Linked DNA regions of Homo sapiens: region 1 is linked to region 2. The links come from fine-mapping of genetic effects on gene expression. Tissue or cell type: whole blood. Region 2 holds a variant in brackets; the other region holds the start of a gene. All regions are shown on one strand. Distances are from middle to middle.

Evidence for each region. PIP is the estimated chance that this variant, and not a neighbour inherited with it, causes the effect.
Region 1: MARCKS starts here. The variant in region 2 is fine-mapped to the expression of MARCKS in whole blood (INTERVAL, PIP 0.95).

What each region holds. Positions count from the first base shown.
Region 1 is chr6:113,854,964-113,860,089 of GRCh38, reverse strand. MARCKS (myristoylated alanine rich protein kinase C substrate) reads right to left here and starts at 2,745. Exons shown (of 2, transcript NM_002356.7): 1 at 2,243-2,745; 2 at 1-407. The coding sequence starts at 2,344. RefSeq lists enhancers at 322-865, 2,664-2,713, 2,501-3,044, 3,045-3,590, 3,861-3,910 and 1 more and silencers at 869-1,198, 4,781-4,990.
Region 2 is chr6:113,442,546-113,447,833 of GRCh38, reverse strand. No RefSeq gene overlaps it. Among named protein-coding and RNA genes, the nearest start is that of LINC02518, 12 kb to the right of the region's middle. The variant G/A (reference allele first, on the strand shown) is at 2,755.

The DNA.
Region 1 (5,126 bases), 410 kb before region 2:
GAGAAGCCGCTCAGCTTGAAAGACTTCTTGAAGGAAAAGCGCTTCTTTTTTTTTTTCGGGGTCTCGTTGCTGGGCGAGGGCGTGGCCCCGTCCTCGGCCTTGGGCGAAGAAGTCGAGGAGGCGGCCGACGCGGCCTCTCCCTCCGCGGCCGTGGGCGAGCCGGGCTCGGCAGCCTCGCCTTCCGCGGGGGCCTCCTTCTCTACCGGGCTGGCCCCGGCCTCGGGGGCAGCGGCGGCGGCCGGCTCACCTTTCTCGGCCGCGGAGGGCGACGCCGCCCCGCTCCCGGCGGCCGCGGGCTCCTCCTTGTCGGCGGCCGGGGCGCTGCCGTTGGCCTGCAGCTCCTCCTTGGCGCCCGACTCGGCGGCCGCGGGCGAAGCGTCGCCGTTTACCTTCACGTGGCCATTCTCCTAAGGGGCAGAGAAAGCGGGAGCGTCACTGAAGCGGCCGGGGCGCCGCCATTCCCGCCCCCAGCCCTGGACCGGGAGTGCCCCGCTTCCCCCTAAGGCCCCTGTGGCCATCGAGACCCCACCCCCGCCGTTGTGGGGAGGGAGGCGCGGGTGGATGCCCAGAAGAGAGCCCCACGAACGAGGAAATGGGCACCGCTGCCTGGAGACCCCCCGAAAACACAACTGTAGCCCCCAAGTACGGCAATGGCCTCCCAGCCATTCAGCAAGTGCCCTAAAGACGAAGTCCGAAACGTAGCAAGCAAAGGCTAACCATGCCAGCCCTCGCTTTATCGGGGGCTTGGGGGAAAAAAGGTGCCAGGGACTAGTTGACACAGCAAACGCCCTTTGGAAGAAGGCACAGAGCCAGAGCTGGTGGTTCGCGCCTACGTTTCACATCCCTCTTTCGCCCTAAATACATAAAGGCCTCTTCAAAATACCAGGAATTCCCAGGGGGATCACAGCACTCGAGCCAGGAGCGCCCGCGCGGGGCCCTCCGAGCTCCTGCGCCCACCCAGGCCTTTGGCACCGGCAGGGGGCGCTGTGCCTCCACCGCGCCGCGTTGGGCGCAGGCAGGCGAGGAGGGGCGGAGTCGCCGGGCCACCCCGCCCTGCCCAGCCGGGCCCTGCCCGCAGGCCGAGGCGCCCCCGAGCCCGGATCGCGCAGCCCAACAGTCCGCAAACAAAGCTCAGGTGGTTTCCTGGCCTGCCGGTCGGGCTGAAACCAACAAGGCAGGGGGAAACCCATTATTTCTGAGGTCTCGCCTCTGCTTCCACGCCCACCTTCCCCTGCGATTCTGCGAAGCCTGGGCGCGCCTCGGCGGCTCATTTTGCATTTTTAACGGGTTTAAAGCCTCTTGGCAGACCTCGCTTTCCCCAGTAGGTTAGAGCAGGCGAAGCGACACGATCTCTTCTCTAGGAAAAGAGGCGTGGTGGGTGCCCAGTGTTTGCGAAGCAGCCACCCATGGCCGACCTCTCGGGTCCACCCAATCGTGGCTATCTGCCTGGGTCCGGGCAGCGCCGGGCGGCCCCTCGCGGGTGGTCGAGGCGCCACGCACAAGAACAATCCCGACCGAAAGGCACGAACCGCCTCTTTTTGACCATCTGGAAAGGTTCTTAAAGGACCCACCGAGTGTTCCCACCCCACAGATACCATTTAAAAATCAAATGGATGTGTAATTCCACAGACAGCTACGAATAAAGATTTAGGACAGTGGGAAAGCCTCATCAAAAGGTACCGAAGCCCTCTGTCTGGCCCCAGCCAGCCACCTTTCCAAGAACCCAGGGCACGCCGCCGCGGCATACAATAAGACAGCCTTTCCCTCCTCGCCTTTCTCCACCACCATCCCCATTGCGCCCCCCTTTCCCGACTCCCCCCCCCGCCACACACAATCACACCACCAGTTCAGAAATCTCGAAGACAATCCAGCTTCGACAACAAACCCGAGAGACACCCAAACACCATTGTGCCCCCAAACACAAATGAAACCTGGCTGGGGGCGGGGGAAGGAGGGCACCTAGCTAGTCACGTTCTGCCAATCTCCAAACCACGCCATTTTAGACGATTTATCACTCCTTTCCTCCCGTCTACTCAAGAATTCTCCAGGATTCTAAGGAACCACTCCTTTGGTGTGGGGGGACCCCGGCTATGAAAAATCCACAATTTAGGCTATCCATTTCCATTCAACTTTCAGACTAGAATCCAGCCACACTCCTCTCCACGAATGAGCCTTGGGAGCCACCAGGAGGGAAGGAGAGAAAGACACGAAATAAATGACCACAACCACAGGTAGAATTTACCTGTCCGTTCGCTTTGGAAGGCGACGAGGCCACAGCCGCCTCCCCAGGCCTCTCCGCGGCGGCTTCTCCCTTCGCTGCGGTCTTGGAGAACTGGGCACCCATGCTGGCTTCTTCAACAAAGAAACTCAACAGATCCAAGAGGGGAAACAAAGAGCCTCGGGTTGGTGTAACGACGGGGCGAGCAGCAGCAGCAGCGGCGGCGGCAACAGCGGCAGCGGCACACACACCGGAGGGAGGGGGGTGGGGGTGGTGGAGAGGACAGAACAGAACCGATTAAATACACTCCGGATAAAAAAATTTTAGTCGAAGAGATCAAAAAGCAGCAGCACAGGAGGGAGGGAAAAAGGGTGGAAAAGTCGAGCACAAAAAAAGGAGCCCAAGTGTAGTTCGAAAAAAAAAGAAGTAATAAAAAAATCCCAGATTTGTAGCCGCACTGTAGACAAGAGGAAAATGGAGAAATCTCCCTGGTTGCTAATAAGATGCGGGGTCCAACGCCCAAGTGCACAGATGAATGGGCTCGCGGGCGCTGACGCGGCCCCCGCGCGCGTCGGCCAATCCGCGCGCCGCACACAAAGCAGGGGGCGGGGTCTGCGCGCCTGGCGAACAATGGAGCCGCGCTTTGCAAACGGTTTGAAAATCAGCCTCAGACCGAGAATTAATGTCCTCCAAATAAATAAATCAATTAAAAAATACATGGCACTCGTCTCTCTCTGCTTGAAAATAATAATGCATTTCTTGATTGGCTTGCTTTGTTTGGAATTAATTAACACGGGAGGGGGGTACTTGTGCATCGGGGCGGAGAAAGCGTTAACTTGACTCGCATTGACTCTCGTCGGTCTATATCCGTGTGTCTCTCTCTCTCCACTCGCTCCCCTCCCCCATCTTTCCGTGTGTTTATGTGTATGTGTGTGTATGCGAGTGTTAAAGACAATGGTTGCGATTTGTGTGTTTGCAGCATGTTTTCTTTCTTTTTTCCATATTGGTTTTACAGATAATGCTCAGGGTTTGTTTTTTGAACTGCTGCAATGGTTAAATCGTCCCAAATTGAAAGGTATTTAAACCACGAAGATCGAATTTCATCAAGCGAGATCGCAAGTTAGAATTAGGTCTGTAGGCCAGATGTGGAAAATGCAAAAGCGGCAAACAGCGAAGCCACACTCCCTTCCCTCTCCCACATTGGCATGAAATAAAATATTTTGAGATTGGCCTTGGGCGCTCAACAAATTCCCCCTTCTCTGGCTATTCCCAATTAGTGATTTTTTTCCCCCACAATTCAAAGTGAGAGCCATTTACAGAAGATCGAAACTCTTCGCGTTTTATCACTGTTTTAAATGACATAATTTTCCTCTATGGTGAAATGAGACACAGCCTCGAGTAGACGAATCCATATTTACAGTTGGGATGTTATTCGCGTCAATATGGATCGTTTTCAGCCTACTGCCAGAATCGAATGGACTCTTTTTGAACGTGTGTGTGAGTGCGCACGCAGGCGAATGTGCTCCTGAAAGGAAGGGAGGCAGCAGCAACGATGACATTCTAAACCGGATTGCAGTTCTAAGGAGAAATGTTCTGTATGTTGAGAGATAGCAAGATCCCTGAGCTCTCCAAGTCTAACTTGGGTTAGAGGAAAACCTTCTATAATGGTACACAGGATACCTCCATCTGTCACTGCACTCCTTGCCACCGAAGTACCAGACGCTTTTTGTGCGTGAGAGACAAGGCACTGACTTAAAGTATGAGGGGTGAGGGGAACCAAGGAAACAGCTTAATAAGCATTTTCTTCCCAAAGTTTTCACTCGTGGCAAAATCAGACCACCTTTTCTCGTTTACATTTGGTGATCTTGCAAGGAATAATCTTTCGCTTATGAAGGTGAGAAGCAGTCGAGGGAATGGTTCATTTCTCCTGGTGCTGGCTCTGAATTCTCAAACAGTTTTATTTTCTGCTCATTGTAGGGAAATAGGTCACACTCTGAGTGAAAAAGACGGTTGGTTCAAGCCAGTAACTCTTTGTTCAAGCGTTGCTTTAAAAATCACCAAGCTGAACATTGTTACGTGAAGCTTCGTCTTCTCACTGTCCAGTTCCTTCAGATGCATTATTCGACCATGGTCATATTCCCCAGAGCTGATGTAAAGACGTTTCCGTAGAAATGCATCTTGCCAGCAAACGTGTTATTACCCTTAAGAGAGCCCGCTGGCCTGGCCCACGACCCCAGCCGCCAGGATGGACGCAAATCCCTTGTATTAGCAGTTCCAACTTGAAAAGCCAACTGGGCTGATCCGACACCACCATCCAGGCGATTCCCAAAAGCCCATTTAAGGCTCTTGATTTCCCCCCACCCCCAACGTGAATCATGCCCCTTCCTCCGCATCCCCCTCCTATTTTAAATTGGGGTGACTGCTAGCTCGCTTTCAGATTTTCTCCCAGACGCGTCCTTAGCCCTCCATTTGGGGGCTGCTTTTATTGCTCCTTTGTTACCAGGCTGCCGTGTAGCTTTCCCCCCTTTTCTTTCTGGTACGCCTATTTGCCTGGTATCGGCTGGTCTCCCTGGCAACGGCCGGGGAAGATTCGGAGCACTGGGCCGGGGAGGGGGAAGAGGCGGAGCCGGCGCTGGGGGGTGACGGTGGGGGAGACGGGGGCTGGGAGTGGTGGAGGGGAGAGGGGCCGAGTGAGAGACTGGGAGACAGACTGCGAAGCAGATGGCCGCGCGAGGGGGCGGGGTGCGGGCGGGGTGCGGGCGGGGCGCGGCGGGGGGACAGTCCCAGCGTCAGGGGCGCAAGGGAGCCAATCAATTCCCGCAGCAGCTCCGGGGCAAAAAAAAAAAAAAAAAAAAAAAAAAGTGTAAACACATAGATTCCCTCCCCACGAGCGGTCTCGGTCTCTAGT
Region 2 (5,288 bases):
CTATTACCGTTAGTGTGAAATCAAATTGGTGACCAATATGTAGTCTAACAGTTGCTCTGTGACCATCAGTAATAATTTAGTGATGGAGTTCAAATCATAAGTGAAAACATTTTTCCCCCTCCAAGAACGTGAACCATACCTTCTTTCTTAACTTCTGAGCAGACTTGGTCTGTCTTACAAGAAAGACCTGTCTTTACTAGAGATGTGACTCATTAAAATAGAAACAGCTCTCCAATATGACAATTTAACACTCTTCCTCAGTACTGGATTTACTTGGAAAATGTACATCTTCAAATTCTTGGTCATGGAACATCTGAACAAGCACAAACACTTCTACAACCCATAATTGTTAGTTTAGACCATTAAAAAAAAGTGCATTTTTTTTTGTGGATTAAAGACTTAGACCTCAGGCATTGAGTCCCTTAAACCCCCACCACCAATCTAGCAGTCTTATATACAACATAAATTCTCATGCACTATAATTATTGTGGTCAATGATGCTAAACCAAGCACATAGTTTTTCCTCAAACACGTTCATAGGCAAGGAAAAAGTTGCCTTCATGACTCACTTTTAGAGACGAAGCAACAAGTTTGGGTCATGTGAGAGCTGACTCACTCTTTTTCTTCCCTTCCACATTTAAGATGGGTTCATAATAGGGGAAACTAAGTTAACTCTCCATTACCTTGATTGGGACTACATAAAGAGAAACCAAAAATTCGGCCAGAATTTTAAAATTCTGGGGATGTCTTTAAAATCAGTAGACTTCTTGCTTATCAAGTAGTTTATGTCCAGATACCTTCCAATGTAATGTAGTTTTTTGTTATTAACAGCTTTATGGAAGTATAATTTATGTATCTTAAAGTCTACCTATTATAAGTATACAATTCAATAATTTGTAATAAATTTATACAGCAGAGCTATCATCATCACATTCCAGTTTTAGGACATCTCCATTACCTCTAAAGTTTTCTTGTACTCATTTATAGTTAATCACTGCTTCCACATTCACCTCTAGGCTAATACTGATTTCTCTTCTTTTTATAAATTTGCTTTTTCTGAACATTTTATATAAATGAATTACAGAGTAATTATGCTTTTTGCACCTGACTTCTTCTTTGAGGTTAATTTACACTGTAGCATGTATGGTAGTGCTATCATTTTTATTGCTGAATAACCTTCCATTGTATGGATATGGCACTTAAAAAAGTCCATTTCCCAATTGATGGACATTTGAATTATTTCCAGTTTTTGGCTATTATGAATAATGCTGCTGTGAATATTTACCTACATGTCTCTGTGACAGGTTTTTATTTTTCTTACACATATTCCTAGGTATTGCTATGTCATATAGTAAGTGTGCATTTAAATTTTTAAAGTTTTATTTATTTTATAATTAATTTTAATTTGTATTTTAAGTTCCAGGGTACATGTTCAGGATATGCAGGTTCATTACATAGGTAGATGTGTGTAATGGCGTTTTGCTGTACCTGTCAAGACATCATCTAGGTATTAAGCCCAGCATGCATTAGCTATTTCCTGATACTTTCCCTCCCCTGACCCTACCCCCCAACAGGCCCCAATGTGTGTTGTCCCCCTCCCTGTGTCCATGTGTTCTCATTGTTCTGCTCCAGCTTATATGTGAGAACATGTGGTGTTTAGTTTTTTGTTCCTGCATTAATTTGCTGAGGATAACAGCTTCCAGCTCCATCCATGTCCCTGGAAAGGACATGATCTCGATCCTTTTTATGGCTGCATAGTATTCCATGGTGTATATGTACCACATTTTCTTTTTTTCTTTTCTTTTCTTTTCTTTTCTTTTTTTTCTTTTTCTTTTTTTTTTTTTTTGAGATGGAGTCTTACTCTGTCATCCAGGCTGGAGTGCAATGGCATGATCTTGGCTCACTGCAACCTCCACCTCCCAGGTTCAAGTGATTCTCCTACCTCAGCCCCCTGAGTAGCTGGGATTACAGGCATGTGCTACTGCACCTGGCTAATTTTTGTATTTTTAGTAGAGACGGGGTTTCACCATGTTGGCCAGGCTGGCCTTGAACTCCTGACCTCAGGTGATCTACCCATCTTGGCCTCTCAAAGTGTTGGGATTACAGGTATGAGCCACTGCACCCAGCCTGTACCACATTTTCTTTATCCAGTCTACAGTTGATAGGCATTTGGGTTGATTCCATTTCTTTGCTATTGTGAATAGTGCTGCACTGAGCAAACACGTGCATGTATCTTTGTAATAGAATGATTTATACTCCTTTAGGTATATGCTCAGTAATGGGATGTGGATCAAATAGTATTTCTGGTTCTAGATCTTTGAGGAATTGCCACATCATCTTCCACAATGGTTGAACTAATTTATATTCATACCAACAGTGTAAAAGCATTCCTATTTCCCCGCAACCTCGCCAGCATCTGTTATTTTTTGACTTTTTTATAATTGACTTTTTGACTGGCATGAGATGGTATCTCATTGTGGTTTTGATATGCATTTCTCTAATTAGCGATGTTGAGCATTTTTTCATGTTTCTTGGCTGCATGAATGTCTTCTTTTGAGCAATATCTGTTTATGTCCTTTGCCCACTTTTTAATGGCTTTTTTTTTTTGTAAATTTCTTTAAGTTCCTTGTAGATTCTGGATATTGGACCTTTGTCAGATGAACATTCCATGCTCATGGATAAGAAGAATTAATATCGTGAAAATAGCCATACTGCCGAAAGTAATTTATAAATTCAATGCTATTCCCATTAAAC[G/A]ACCATTGACATTCTTCACAGATTTAGAAGAAACTATTTTAAAATTCATATGGTACCAAAAAAGAACTCTTATAGCCAAGACAATCCTAAGCAAAAAGTAAGAAGCTGAAGGCATAACACTGCCAGACTTCAAACTACAACAAGGCTACAATAACCGAAACAGCATGGTACTGGCACAAAAACAGACATATAGACCAATAAAACAGAATAGAGAACTCAGAAATAAGACTGCACATCTACAACCATCTGATTTTCAACCCCTTCCTTACACCTTATATAAAAATTAACTCAAGATGGATTAAAGACTTAAATACAAAACCCAAAACTATAAAAACCCTAGAAGAAGGCTGGGCGCGGTTGCTCTCACCTGTAATGCCAGCACTTTGGGAGGCCAAGGTGGGCCGATCAGCTGAGGTCAGGAGTTTGAGACCACCCTGGCCAACATGGCAAAACCCTGTCTCTACTAAAAATACAAAAATTAGCTGGGCGTGGTGGTGCACGCTTGTAATCCCAGCTACTTGGGAGGCTGAGACAGGAGAATTGCTTGAGCTGGGGGAGCAGAGATTGGGGTGAGCCAAGATCTCACCACTGCACTCCAGTCAGCCAACAGGGTGAGACCCTGTCTCAAAAAAAGGAAAACAACAACAACAACAACAACAACAACAACAACAACAAAAAGCCCTAGAAAAAAATCTAGGCAATACCACTCAAGGCATAATCATGGGCAAGGATTTCATGATGAAATCACCGAAAGCGATTGCAACAAAAGTAAAAATTGACAAATGGGATCTAATTAAACTAAAGAGCTTTCTGTACAGCAAAAGAAACTGTTGTCAGAGTGAACAGGAAACCTACGGAGTGGTAGAAACTTTTTTTGTTTTTTCTTTGAGACTGTCTCACTCTGTCACCCAGGCTGGAGTGCAATGGCATGGTCTTGGCTCAAGCCAACGTCTGCCTCCCAGGTTCAAGTGATTCTCATGTCTCAGACTCCTGAGTAGCTGGGATTACAGACATGTGCCACCACACCTGGCTAATTTTTGTAATTTTAGTAGAGATGGGGTTTCACCATATTGGCCAGGCTGGTCTCGAACCCCTGACCCAAGTGATCCAACCGCCTTGGCCTCCCATAGTACTAGGATTACAGATGTGTGCCACCATGTCAGCCTTATTTATTTTTTAATTAGAGATGAGGTCTTGCTATGTTGCCTGGTATAAGTCCTTTATCAAATATATGATTTGCAAATATTTTCTTCTACTTTTTGGCTTTCCTTTTTTATTTTCAAAAATAAAGTGCAAGTGTCTTTAATTTTGAGGAGGTATAAAAGTTTTAAATTTTGATGAAGTCCAATTTGTTAGTTTTTTTCTTCTATGGATTGTGATTTTGGTGACTAAGAACTCTATCAGTAATGCAAAGGCATGAAGATTTTCTTCTATATTTTCTACTGGAAACTTTCTAGTTTACCTGTTCCATTTAGGTTTGTGATAAGTTTTGAGTTAGTTTTTGCATATTATATGAGATACCTTAATTCATTTGGGCTGGTATAACAAAATACTATTGATTGAGTTGCTTATCAACAACAGAAATGTTTTTCTGACAGTTCTGGGAGCTATGAAATCAAAGATCAAGGTGCCAGAGATTTCATATCTGGTGAGGGCCTGCTTTCTGATTCAGAGACGGTGGCCTTTTCACTGTAATCTCACATGGTGGGAGGGCCAAGGGAGTCTCTGAGGTCTCTTTTAGAAGGGCACTGCAGTAGTCCCTCCTTATCTACAGGGAATATGTTCCAAGACCCCTAGTAGATGCCTAAAACCATAGATAGTACTGAACCCCATATATATGATATATTTTCCTAACCCCCTACATACCTACAATAAAGTTTCATATATAAATTAGGCACAATAAGAGATTAACAATAACTAATAATAACTAATAATAAAATAACAATATAATTTAATAAAAATAAGGTGAATATGTCTCTCTCAAAAAATATCTGATTGTGTTGTACTGCTGGTAACTGAAACCGTGGAAAGCTAAACCATAGAAAATAGGGAACTACTATAATTCCATTTATAAGGGCTCCCCCTTTACAATCTAATCACCCCCTAAAGACTCCACATTCAAATCCTTCATGTTAGGGATTAGGGTTCAATATATGAAATTTGGAGAGATACAAATATTCATTTTATAACACACGAAGGTAATAGTTTTAAGGTTTTTTTTTCCAAATATTCTTTTCTGCATCTATTGAGATAATAAAGTGATGTTTGTCCTTTTTTCTACTGATATGGTATATTACATTAGTTGAATTGTATATTATGACCAAATGCATCCTAGGAATGTAAGTTGAGTTTAATATTGAAAATCAATTATGTGTTTCTAGATTCAGTTTGCTCATGTTTTGTTAAAGATTTTTTGTATCTGTGTTCATGAGAAATATTTGTGTACAATTTTTTTGTGATTATTTTTATTCTTTTGTTCAGCTTTTTATTTGCTTTCTGGGGGATAGAATTTGTGGACCTTCTCATGTAGTGGA